2 separate regions of the Homo sapiens genome follow, and region 2 is linked to region 1. Evidence: fine-mapped expression QTL. A gene starts in region 1. The other region holds a variant in brackets. All regions are shown on one strand. Distances are between the middles of the regions. Region 1 holds the start of SLC18A2 (solute carrier family 18 member A2). Region 2 overlaps PDZD8 (PDZ domain containing 8).

What was found. PIP is the estimated chance that this variant, and not a neighbour inherited with it, causes the effect.
Region 2: its variant is the best candidate, but not a certain one, in a credible set for the expression of SLC18A2 in whole blood (INTERVAL, PIP 0.54).

The regions. Positions count from the first base shown.
Region 1 is chr10:117,238,856-117,244,230 of GRCh38, reverse strand. SLC18A2 (solute carrier family 18 member A2) reads right to left here and starts at 3,117. Exons shown (of 16, transcript NM_003054.6): 1 at 3,011-3,117; 2 at 2,417-2,552; 3 at 1-260. The coding sequence starts at 2,537. SLC18A2-AS1 (SLC18A2 antisense RNA 1) reads left to right here and starts at 2,234. Exons shown (of 3, transcript NR_184310.1): 1 at 2,234-2,346; 2 at 2,448-2,570; 3 at 4,050-5,375.
Region 2 is chr10:117,325,179-117,330,553 of GRCh38, reverse strand. The region is part of intron 2 of PDZD8 (PDZ domain containing 8); the gene reads left to right. Among named protein-coding and RNA genes, the nearest start is that of PDZD8, 48 kb to the left of the region's middle. The variant G/A (reference allele first, on the strand shown) is at 2,291.

The DNA.
Region 1 (5,375 bases):
TTCATTCAGGAGGTCTTTGTCTTCACTGGGACAGTCGGAAGGAACAGCGGACGCGTTGGTCACCATGTGCTGTGTGGCGGTCTGATGAAGTGTCAGGTCTCTGGTAGCATTCCCGGTGACCATAGTCGAGTTATCATAATAGGAGAAGATGCTCTGGAAGCTGTCTGAGATGGAGGCAGTGTGCACTGGCCTGGCCGTCTGGATTTCTGTAGCATTCTTCTCATGCTTAATGCTGTACAGATAACTTGGGATGATGGGGACTGGGGATAAGAGCAGAATGGCAAGGTGGTGATCACACTGAAACCCTCTCCAGGAAAAAAGCCAGCAAAAAACTATGGTTGTGTCGGCAGGGAGCAGTGGCTCACACCTGTAATTCCAGGACTTTGGGAAGCTGAGGCAGGTGGATCACCTGAGGTCAGGAGTTCGAGACCAGGCTGGCCAACATGGAGAAACCCTCTCTCTACTAAAAATACAAAAATTAGCTGGGCGTGGTGGCACCCACCTGTAATCCCAGCTCCTTTGGAGGCTGAGAAAGGAGGATCGCTTGAACCTGGGAGGTGGAAGTTGCAGTGAGCAAAGATTGCACCACTGCACTCCAGCCTGGGTGACAGAGTGAGACTCTGTCTCAAACAAACAAAACAACAATAACAACAACAAAACTATGGTTGTGTCAAATGCCAGAAGAGGTCCAGAGGGTGACAGGTCTACCCCAAAACAGGAGCCCTGTGCCATATGTCTATAACGACATTGGAGCAAGTTCACTTTACTTAGCTCACTAGAAAGAACCATGCCCCCAACGGCCCTGAGAACTGTCTCCTCTCAAAAGGCAGCTGCTGTGCTGAACTGACTGGTCCCAGAGATTCTGTCATTTGTGGGTTTCTTCCACATTGTTCCTTCAAGGAATATTTCAGAAAAGCAAAATGTGGCCTGACGTTAAGAGAGTGCTGACCTGGAGTCAACCAGTGCTTCTAAGAAAGAGAGGCTCAAAAGACTTTCAAATGAATGAATCAAGGAAACAGAAAACTACACTTCATTATGTGTCTTAGAAAAAAATTAACCTGCAGGAAGTAATAACTTGGAAATTCTGCAACAGGCCCACTTCATCCTTCTATTATGAGTGGGAATCTGTAATTTTTCCTACAACTTGTAAGATTTAAGAATTCCTAAGGCTTTCACAAGGAAAAAGCAAAACTGAAACAGGCCAGGCACGGTGGCTCAGGCCTGTAATCCCAGCATTTTGGGAGGTCGAGGCGGGTAGATCACCTGAGGTCAGGAGTTCAAGACCAGCCTGGCCAACATGGCAAAATCCTGTCTCTAATAAAAATACAAAAATTAGCCAGCTTTGGTGGGGCATGCCGGTAACCCAGCTACTCGGGAGGCTAATGCAGGAGAATCACTTGAACCCGGGAGGTGGAGGTTGCAGTGAGCCAAGACTGTGCCACTGCCCTCCAGCCTGGGCAACAGAGTGAGACTCCATTTCAAAAAAACAAACAAAAACCAAAATAAAAAGCAACAACAAAAAATACAAATTAAATTGTGAAACATATAATCGAAGCTGTGAGCACATGTGTCCAATGGAGCATTCGAGCCGAAGCAGAACTAATGCCGTTGGTACTGAACAGGGATGAGCTCCACGGCTCTGATAACTCCTCGAGATGAAACCTATCAGATGCTCTGAAAACTGCTGTGAGAAAACCTGCAAATGGAGAGAAAGGAAACAGCTCCCACCACTTACAGTCTAAATGAGTCGTGATTTTTTTTTCATTCATTAAAAACTGGGATTTTTTTTTTTAAGGAAATGCATGCCAAATACTTCTCTGTTAATGGGCCTAATTAAGGGACCTGGATTTCGATTATTTAATTTTTCAAAATTCCACTATAGGAAAAATAATAGAACCAAGATTGTTCAAATTGTTCTTGCAATGGTTCCTGAAATATTTCCATCTCAAGTCATTCACTAATACAGTATATCTAAATGTCTTGTTTTTGGAGTAAGGGATCGAAACTTGCTCTTTTAGGTACTACACCAAATTACTAACCTGCCTTTTCGAGTAGCCCAATAATTATTCTAACACGTAATTTTGAACTTTAGGAATTTCTCTTTTGGAACAGAAATCTTTTTCATCGCAGTGAAAGCAGGCAAGAGGATGCGGGAAATTATCAGGGGGAAACATAAGTTCTGGGTCTTATCGGATGTCACAGTTTTTGACCCGAGCATCAGGAAAGCGAAGCCACACAACGCGGCTCCTCCTAGCCCCGGCGCGGCAGCCTGGAGGGGATGTCTTTTTTGCAAAGCGAGTTCTCCAACTTTCCCGGGCCTTGGCGGAGCTCCGGGACCGCGCAGGGGTAAGTGGAGTGCCGGGGAAGGGGCGCTGGGGCTGGGGTGCCGGGGCAGGGGTGCCCTGTCCGCACGTACCCACGACAGTGAGCAGCATGTTGTCCAGCAGCAGCGCCAGGAACACGATGAACAGGATGAGCTTCCGCGAGCGGCGGCTCTCCTGCAGCCAGCGGACCAGCGCCAGCTCGCTCAGGGCCATGGCTCCGGGGCTCCGCTGCGGGCGCGGTGCGCGGTGAGGACCCAAGGCGGCCGTGGACCCCCCATTCTCCCGTCCCCCAGGCCGCGGAAGGGCGGGTCAGGGAGCCGCGCGCACCGGCATCCGGGGACACCCCCGGGCGCCCCAGCCTCGGCTCACCTGCCTCGAGCGCGTCCCCACGAGAGCCCGCGCTCCCTGGAAAGAGCGCCCGCGAGCGCCGTCGGGGACCCAATCTGGAGACCCAACCTAGAACCCCCAGGACGCTGCCCTGATCCCCGCCGCCCCCAACTGTGCCACCTCCCAAACTGCACGCTCGGCCCCGTGCACCTTGCGCCCTGCGCCCTGCGCCCCGGCTGCCCCGGGGTCCCCGCAGCCCCGCCCGCGTAGCTCTGGGGGCCTCCCTGCCTCCCTGCCTCCCCCGGGCCCGCTCCCCTCCGGCACCGCGCCCTGCGAGCAGGGAACCGGGGCCGTGTTACCTCGGGGTCGCTTGCGATGCCTGCCCGGGTCCTCCGTGCCCGCGCCAACGCCCGCACCGCAGTGGGCTCCGTCAGTCCGGGCGGCTCCGGGTCGCAGTCTCCGCCCCAGCGCCCCGCCGCCGCCGCTCAGTTTACCCCGTCCGGCTCTGACGTCACGGCCGGAGGGAGCGGGGGCGGGGGGCTGGGGCGCCCCGGCCTCCGCCCGCCCGCGCCGTCGCTGCGCAGGAGGGGCTGCCGCCTCCCTGTCCCCGCCTCGGCCGCGGCCGCGCCTCTTCCCCGGACCCAGCGCGTGGCCGAGTGCCTTGGGGACCCAGGCCTGGGGAAGAGGCAGGGGCGCAGAGGGAAAGAGGTCAGAGAGCCTGGACGAAGAGTGAAGGGCCAGGGACCAAGGCGAGGAGGCACGGACCAGGGCTTTCTTGTGGCTCCAAGTGGTGGCTCGAGCTGCTTTGAATAAATCACGTGGCTCTTTGAGCCTCAGTGTCCCTGAAATGGGCCGTGAGGACGGGAATGATGGCCGCGGGGTGAGATCGCCAGGGGTGACAGGTGCTGGGAGCCAGGGACAGGCTTCCCTTTCCTGAAGAAGCCACCCTTTGCACCCACCATCCCCTCCCCTCTCCGACCTCTGCAGCCCGATGCGGGGTGCCACTCGGAGGAGCCTTTGAGCCTTGGGCATCCTCAAGCTGGTGACTTGGAAACGGGGGGGGGAAGGGGACACTTTTCAGTGTCGCCCTATGGTGGGAGTTGGGGAGGTGAGGGTCCCAGGTCTCAGAAAGTGGGAGCAGTGGGTTTGGGCCTCTGGGGCCACCTGAGCAGGGGACCCTGGAGGCTAGGTGAGTACACCTGGCCTCAGAGAAAGGGCTAGGGGGCGGGCTGTGGGCGGGGCAGCAGGCCTAGGCCCTGTGTCCTGTACTCTCTCCCCACCATGCTGTGCCTGGGCGTCTGGGTGAGAGGTGGTTCCTAGAGCCAGGGGCCTGCGTGTGGCTGGTGCAGAGCTGTCATCCTCACTGCTAAGGGCTAAGAGCCTGCCTTTGATTTCCAGGTCCCTTTTATAAGCAAAGGAGAAACAAACAGATGCCCTCTGACATCGCTGGAGCTCTGCAGGCCCTCCGAGGGGACCGTGGGAGCAAGAGCTGTTTTCTTGAAAAGCTACCTAGAATAAATGTTACCCTGTCACAGTCTCTTAGCAGAAGAGTGGGCTTGTTTTATTAATGTTAGCTTGTTGACAGCAGGAGGCCACTGAGAACAGCAGTGTGATGTGTGGCTGCCCCCGCTCTCTCCACCTCCCTACTCCCTTGCAGAGACCCCCTGTGCTTCTCATTGCTACCCCATGTGTGAGAAGAGATGGTTGAATAGGTAAGTAGGTCAGGAACATGGGTCTCCAGGATGTCACAGGATGTGCACAACTTAAACATTAAACAGGGAGGACAGAAGGAAAACCACTTAGGAGGAGGAAGCAGATGGCAGAGAGCCGTTTAAGATGGCAGGAGGGTATCACTCAGGGAGTGCCCCAGAGTGCTTGCTCTGGAGTTTCAGAACCCAAGGATGCAGACTCTACCCCAGGGACCACATGGGGACAGAGAGGCATTATGGTAAAGGGTGCCTGCCAGGATGCCCAGGTCCCAGTCTGCTACTTCCTTGACTGGTGGCCTTGGGCTGGTTATGTATCCTCTTTGTGGCTTAGTTTCGCCATCTCTGGAATGGGGATACTCACTGGACCTACTGCAGCGTGGTTGTGAGAATTCCAGGGGAATGCATAGGCAGCTCTTAGCACAGTGCCTGGCACAAAGTGAGAGCTCCGTAAGTGCCGGCCCCTCATTCATGCGCTGAATATGTGTTGAGCTCTTACTACGTGCCAGGCACTATGGTTAATGCTGGGGAGACAGTAAAGCCTAGACAAATCCCTGCTGACATTCTGACCTGATAGCAGCATCATAGCAGTGAACACTGGAAGCCACACCAAACTCCAGCCCAGCCAGCTGGATGTAGATGGCTCCAGGGACAATGCCAGCCCGGCGTTCCCGCCTCCGGATCACTGTCACCACCCCTAGAGCACTATGGCCTATAACAGACTTTTTGTTGAAACCCCCTAAAAAATGTTTAACAATATGTTTGCCTTACACATTTTCAAGTTGGCATCTAAAATGAGTTTTTTAATCATATATTTAAATAGGGTATATTGTATTTATTGACCTTTATGTATAAAATTATTATCTCTCTCTTTTAAATATACCCAAAGGAATTTGTATAAGAATACAAAACTGCCATGTTATACTTAAGAATATAAACAAGTATCCCTTTAACAGTCAAAATATTTACATTGTGTTCTTTACCCCTTTTAAGTATGTTTCCATTCCGTTTTCCAACA
Region 2 (5,375 bases), 86 kb before region 1:
GGGAGGCAAAGGAACTCTAAGGATCTGAGTGTAGGAGAGTTATGTATCCATTGACGTTGATCTGCTCAGCAAGTACTGATTATTTTCTGCATGTTATAGGATAGAAAGAACAAGACACAGTTACCTTCCAGGACTGGATGGGGAAATAGAGGTACTCATTTCAAAGGCAGATGAATTTGATTTTACATATCTTAAGTAGTAAGGCATGGTTAGATTTCCCTGTAGGAGTGTTCTGCAAACTCTTGGGGTTTTAGAGGTAGCAGGGGGAAAATGAGGACTGAAGATTAGATTTGGAAGTCGTGAAAATTGAGGAAAATTGAGTTCTGCATGAGGATGTTTCTGAGGGGGGTTGGGAATATAGAGAGGAGGTGAGCATGTATAAAAGGTCAACCAAGCCTGATTCTTTTAACAACAGGTGAAGTGGTATTTGACCCCCTTCAAGTGCAGGGTTTTCCTTTCAAATTAAGTTTAGTCACCAAAGGAAAAAAAAAAAACAGATTTTTCCCTCCCTCCCTCCCTCCCTCCTTCCCTCCCTCCCTCCCTCCCTCCCTCCCTTCCTTCCTTCCTTCCTTCCTTCCTTCCTTCCCTTCCTCCCTCCTTCCTTTCTTGAGACAGGGTCTCATTCTGTCACCAAGACTGGAGTGCAGTGTCTTGGTCTTGCCTCACTGCAACCTCCACCCGCCAGGCTCAAGCAATCCTCCCACTTCAGCCTCCCGAGTAGCTAGGACTACAGGCATACACCACCATACCCAACTCCTTTTTGTATTTTTTGTAGAGACAGAGTTTTGCCATGTTGCCCAGGCTCGTCTTGAATTCCTGGCCTCAAGGTATTCACCTACTTTGGCCTCTCCGAGTGCTGGGATTACAGGCATGAGCCACCATGCCCCATCATTTTGTACTTTTCTTTGTAGAAATGACTTTCTTATAGCATGAGCATTGGGAATTACTTTCCTTTTCTCATTGGTTTCATCTTTAATCCATTTATACCTAGTGTTCCATTATTGGAACTCTAAGCTTGTGGGAGTTATTTATATCCTACTGCTCAACGTCATCGCCAAGGTCTGATTTTTCACAAAAAAATTTTTCAACCTCCGGTATAAATGGGTTAATCATGTAAACGATCTTAACATGTTTCTAGGTGGTGTTTGTATTTATGCTTACTGGAAGGTTTCAACATACCTTTGCCTTTAAAAGAATACTTTGAACTTGGTAAGAAATTTCACAGAGGTAATAGCTCTTTCAGGAGATAGACGGCAATTTAGAGGAGATAAAAGGCAATTTCTTTTGCTTTTTTGTTTAGTAGTACTGACTTCCCTTTGGAAGTAGTAGTAGTAGAAATTTATTTATACTCATTTATTGCATATTTAACACATGTTTGTTTATATTTATGCAAAATATTTATTAGCCAGTGATTGTTACTGCTTGCTTCTGGTCATTATATAATTTGAATGGAAAGCCTGTCTTTGTTTAAGATTGAACTGTAAGAAATGTGAAATGAAAAGTTATCCTTTTGTTTAAATGTAGAGATTATAATTCACCTTAAGCTAAAGCAAATGTCGTCTATATTCACCTAACTGGCTGGTACTCACGTTTCCAGTGGGAACTCCTTTCTGGCATTTCTTCAGAAATTTCCATGTTTTTCAAATACCAAGAGGAGATATCAGTCAAGGCCTGGTGCTGTGGCCCACGCCTATAATCCCAACACTTTGGGAGGCTGAGGAGGGAGGATTATATTTAATTATAGATCTAATTGGCTTTTATTTATGATTCATGAATTAAGACAGCTTCTGTTCTGCAAATAGAATGAAAACTCCCACTGGGCATTGGCAAAACAGTGGGTTTGGTAAGGTAGAAACAAGGAAATAGAACAATAGGAAAAAAAAAGACTGATTGGTTAACATAAGTTACTTTTTCGTAAGAGAGTTTGAGGCAACATAGTGAGACCTTCTCTCTACAAAAACATAGAAAAAAAAAATTAGCTGGGCATGGTGGCTCGTGCCTGTAGTCCCAGTTATTCCAGAGGCTGAGGTGAGAGGATTGCTTAAGCCTGGGAAGTCAAGGCAGCAGTGAGCCATGATCACAGTGCTTCACTCTAGCCTGGGCGACAGAGCAAGACCCTGTCTCCAAAAAAAATAATAATAATAAAAAAAGAGAGATCTTAAGAAATCAGGAAAATGCAGGGGAGGGGGGAATATTGTAATTCTTCTGAGAATTAAAGCTTGACAGTCAACATAGAGCCACTGCTGGTTGAAGGAATCCATTGATGTCAGGTCAAAAGCAGGCACAAGAA[G/A]CACTGACATAGGGAATTAGGTCCCAGAAACCAAATCTGGAACTTGTAGGAGAGAAACAATCACATTCTGAACAGTTAGTCTTGAGTATAACTTTGGTGATGGGAGTCATTCTTGCAAACAAAATAAATAAGTTGGTGCACATATTATACTTTATATAAATCCTAAGAAATAATTTTTTTTTCCAAGAAATAAGTTTTGGAGCAAAACAAATCCTTAAATTGGCAGATTGGACAGATGCTTCTGTGTAGTGAAGCTAACCTTTGTAGGAGACACTAATGTTATTTTATTAGAGTGGTAATAATGCTTGTGGGTGTTTTCCAGTATTTGAATATCCACTAAAAGCTACAGTTCTTTATATATACTTCAACAGAAGAAATGTAAAGAGAAGATGTGAATGTTGCATAATTCTGTGACAGAATAAAAAAGTAATCTAAAAATCAGAATTAATAAAAGCCATATCCATTTCAAAGGTAAAACCAAATTCAGAATAATTGGACAAAATATTTTCATCATGGAAAAAAGTAAATGTATGTGAAGCAATGTGTACCCTAACACCTGTCAAAAGACAATTATAACATTTAATTATAGATTGAATTGGCTTTTATTCATGATTCATGAATCAGGACAGCCTCTGTTCTGCAAATAGAATGAAAACTCCCACTGGGCAATGGCAGAAAGAACAGTAGGTTTGGTAAGGTGGAAACAAGGAAACAGAACAATAGAAAAAAAACCTGATTGGTTAACATAAGTTACTTCTTGGTAAAGATTAAAGCACAGGGGACTGACTTATGCTAACTCAGGTAGACTGGAATCACCTGTTTTCAGGAAAAACTAGTCTGTTGGCATCTATTTGCTTATATGGCATTTAACATTACAGAGACTGTATTTTGATTTGGTCTGTTTTGTTAGGGCCTAATGCAGGAGCTTAGTCCAAAACAATGGCCTCCCATAATTTTTGTTTAACAATTCCCCCCATTTGGTCACAGTCTCACCTAGGTGAGATCCTTTAGTACCCCTAGGTGAGAGTCTGACCAAAACTTAGGGCATTAGTGCTACTTTCAGTTTCTATCATTCTGCATTGCCAGTTTCAACATGCCATTCATGGATTACAGGGTCCTCATGGTCACTCATTTCTTTGAGTTTTTGTTGTTCCAGCCAAGAGAGACCATTTGACGTTTCACGGATGGCTGCATGTAAACATTCAAAGCATTTGAGAGAATACAGTGCATAGGGAGACTACTACTATCAGAAGGATAGTATGAAGAGTTTGGAGTATGTTCCCTAAGCAGGGTCCCCATGAACCAAAGCAATCAAATCAGATAGATCAAAGAATGAGCTATATTAGAAGTCTACCCATTTTAACCAAGTCGCCTTTTGTTAATTTTTTGTACCTGAGTCTCTTTAATACCAGATGTATTTATCCATCTGTAACAAGAAGTGTCTGCAACTGCACAGATGCCTCCCTGTTCAGCTAGTAGGTAGAAATTCTATTATCCAGCTTCCCATGACTGTGCTAATTTAAAACAAGGAGAGAGAATGAGTGGTTCTAGAAGTCTAACTCTATGCAAGGGACCACTAGTTCAATTTGAACAAACAGTTGTATTAGAGATGTTGCTAAAGTTAACCACTAGGTATATTAAAGGATCTCTTAGGTCATGTAAAGATTTGGGTTTGACATGACAGATCCAGCACTTCATCAAGTTACCTACAGAAGCTGTTTGATTGTGGAATTTTGATTACAGCATTATCCTGCGCCAAGCAAAAGAGGAAAGCTTAAGCAAGGCATTAAGAGAGGTGAGAGTCTCATTATGATGAGGAGGCTTGTTCCAAAGTCTTGGGAAAAGCTATCCACAGCACAAAGCTATCAACTTCTTGTCCTGGTTCACTGTTTTAATGTCTCTGGTTATGGCATAGGGTGATTTGCTGAACTCTGTGTGGCCCACACATTAGGCATGAAACTTGTCTCTTGAAATTTATATTGATTTGTCTAGCTTCACCTTATAGGGATTAAAGAACAGAGCAGTTATTATTCTTAGTTGGAGAGTTGTATGGAGCCAGATATTGGAGGTGTATTAGTCCGTTCTCATGCTGCTATAAAGAAATATCCAAGACTGGGTAATTTATAAAGAAAAGAGGTTTAATTGACTCACAGTTCTGCATGGCTGGGGAGGCCTCAGGACACTTAGAATCATAGTGGAAGGGGAAGAAGAAGCAGGCACCTTCTTCACAAGGTGACAGGAGAGAGATTGAGTGCGAGCAGGGGAAATGCCAGACACTTACAAAACCATCACATCTTGTGAGTCTCACTCACTATCACAAGAACAGCATGGGGGAAACCATCCCCACGATCCAATTACCTTCACCTGGTCCCACCCTTGACATATAGGGATTATGGGGATTACAGTTCAAGGTGAGATTTGGGTGGGGAAACGGAGCCAAACCGTATCAGGAGGAAACTAGAAGAATCCAGGATCCAGTTCAGTCTATAGGAAGATAATAAAAACTTACAGTGAACCAGGCTGTAATCTAACAGATGAAGTGTGGATTTTTTCATAGTTTTGGCTGGGCGTGGTGGCTCATGCCTGTAATCTCAGCACTTTGGGAGGCTGAGGTGGGCAGATCACTTGAGGCCAGGAGTTTGAAACCAGCCTGGCCAATATGGCGGAACCCCATCTCTGCTAAACATACAAAAATTAGCCAGGCATGGTGGCACGCGCCTGTAATCCCAGCTACTTGGGAGGTTCAGGCACAAGAATTGCTTGAACCCAGGAGGTGGAGGTTGTAGTGAGCTGAGATTGCACCACTGCACTCCAGCTTGGGTGACAGAGCTAGACTCTGTCTCAAAAAAAAAAAAAAAAGTTGGCTTTTCTGGAACTTTTGATAGGTAATCTCAAATAAGTCTTTTAGACTTTTAAAAGACTCTCAAGGCTGTGAAGCCAAACCCAGGGCTCACCATTAAACGTCACCTATAGTACTTAATAGATTATGGTGAATTCCTCTCTGAGGTCCCAAAAATATCCTGAGTTTCCTGGGCCTGTCAGGAAGTGACATTTTTCACCCCGCTATAAGACCACCGGCTGGGCT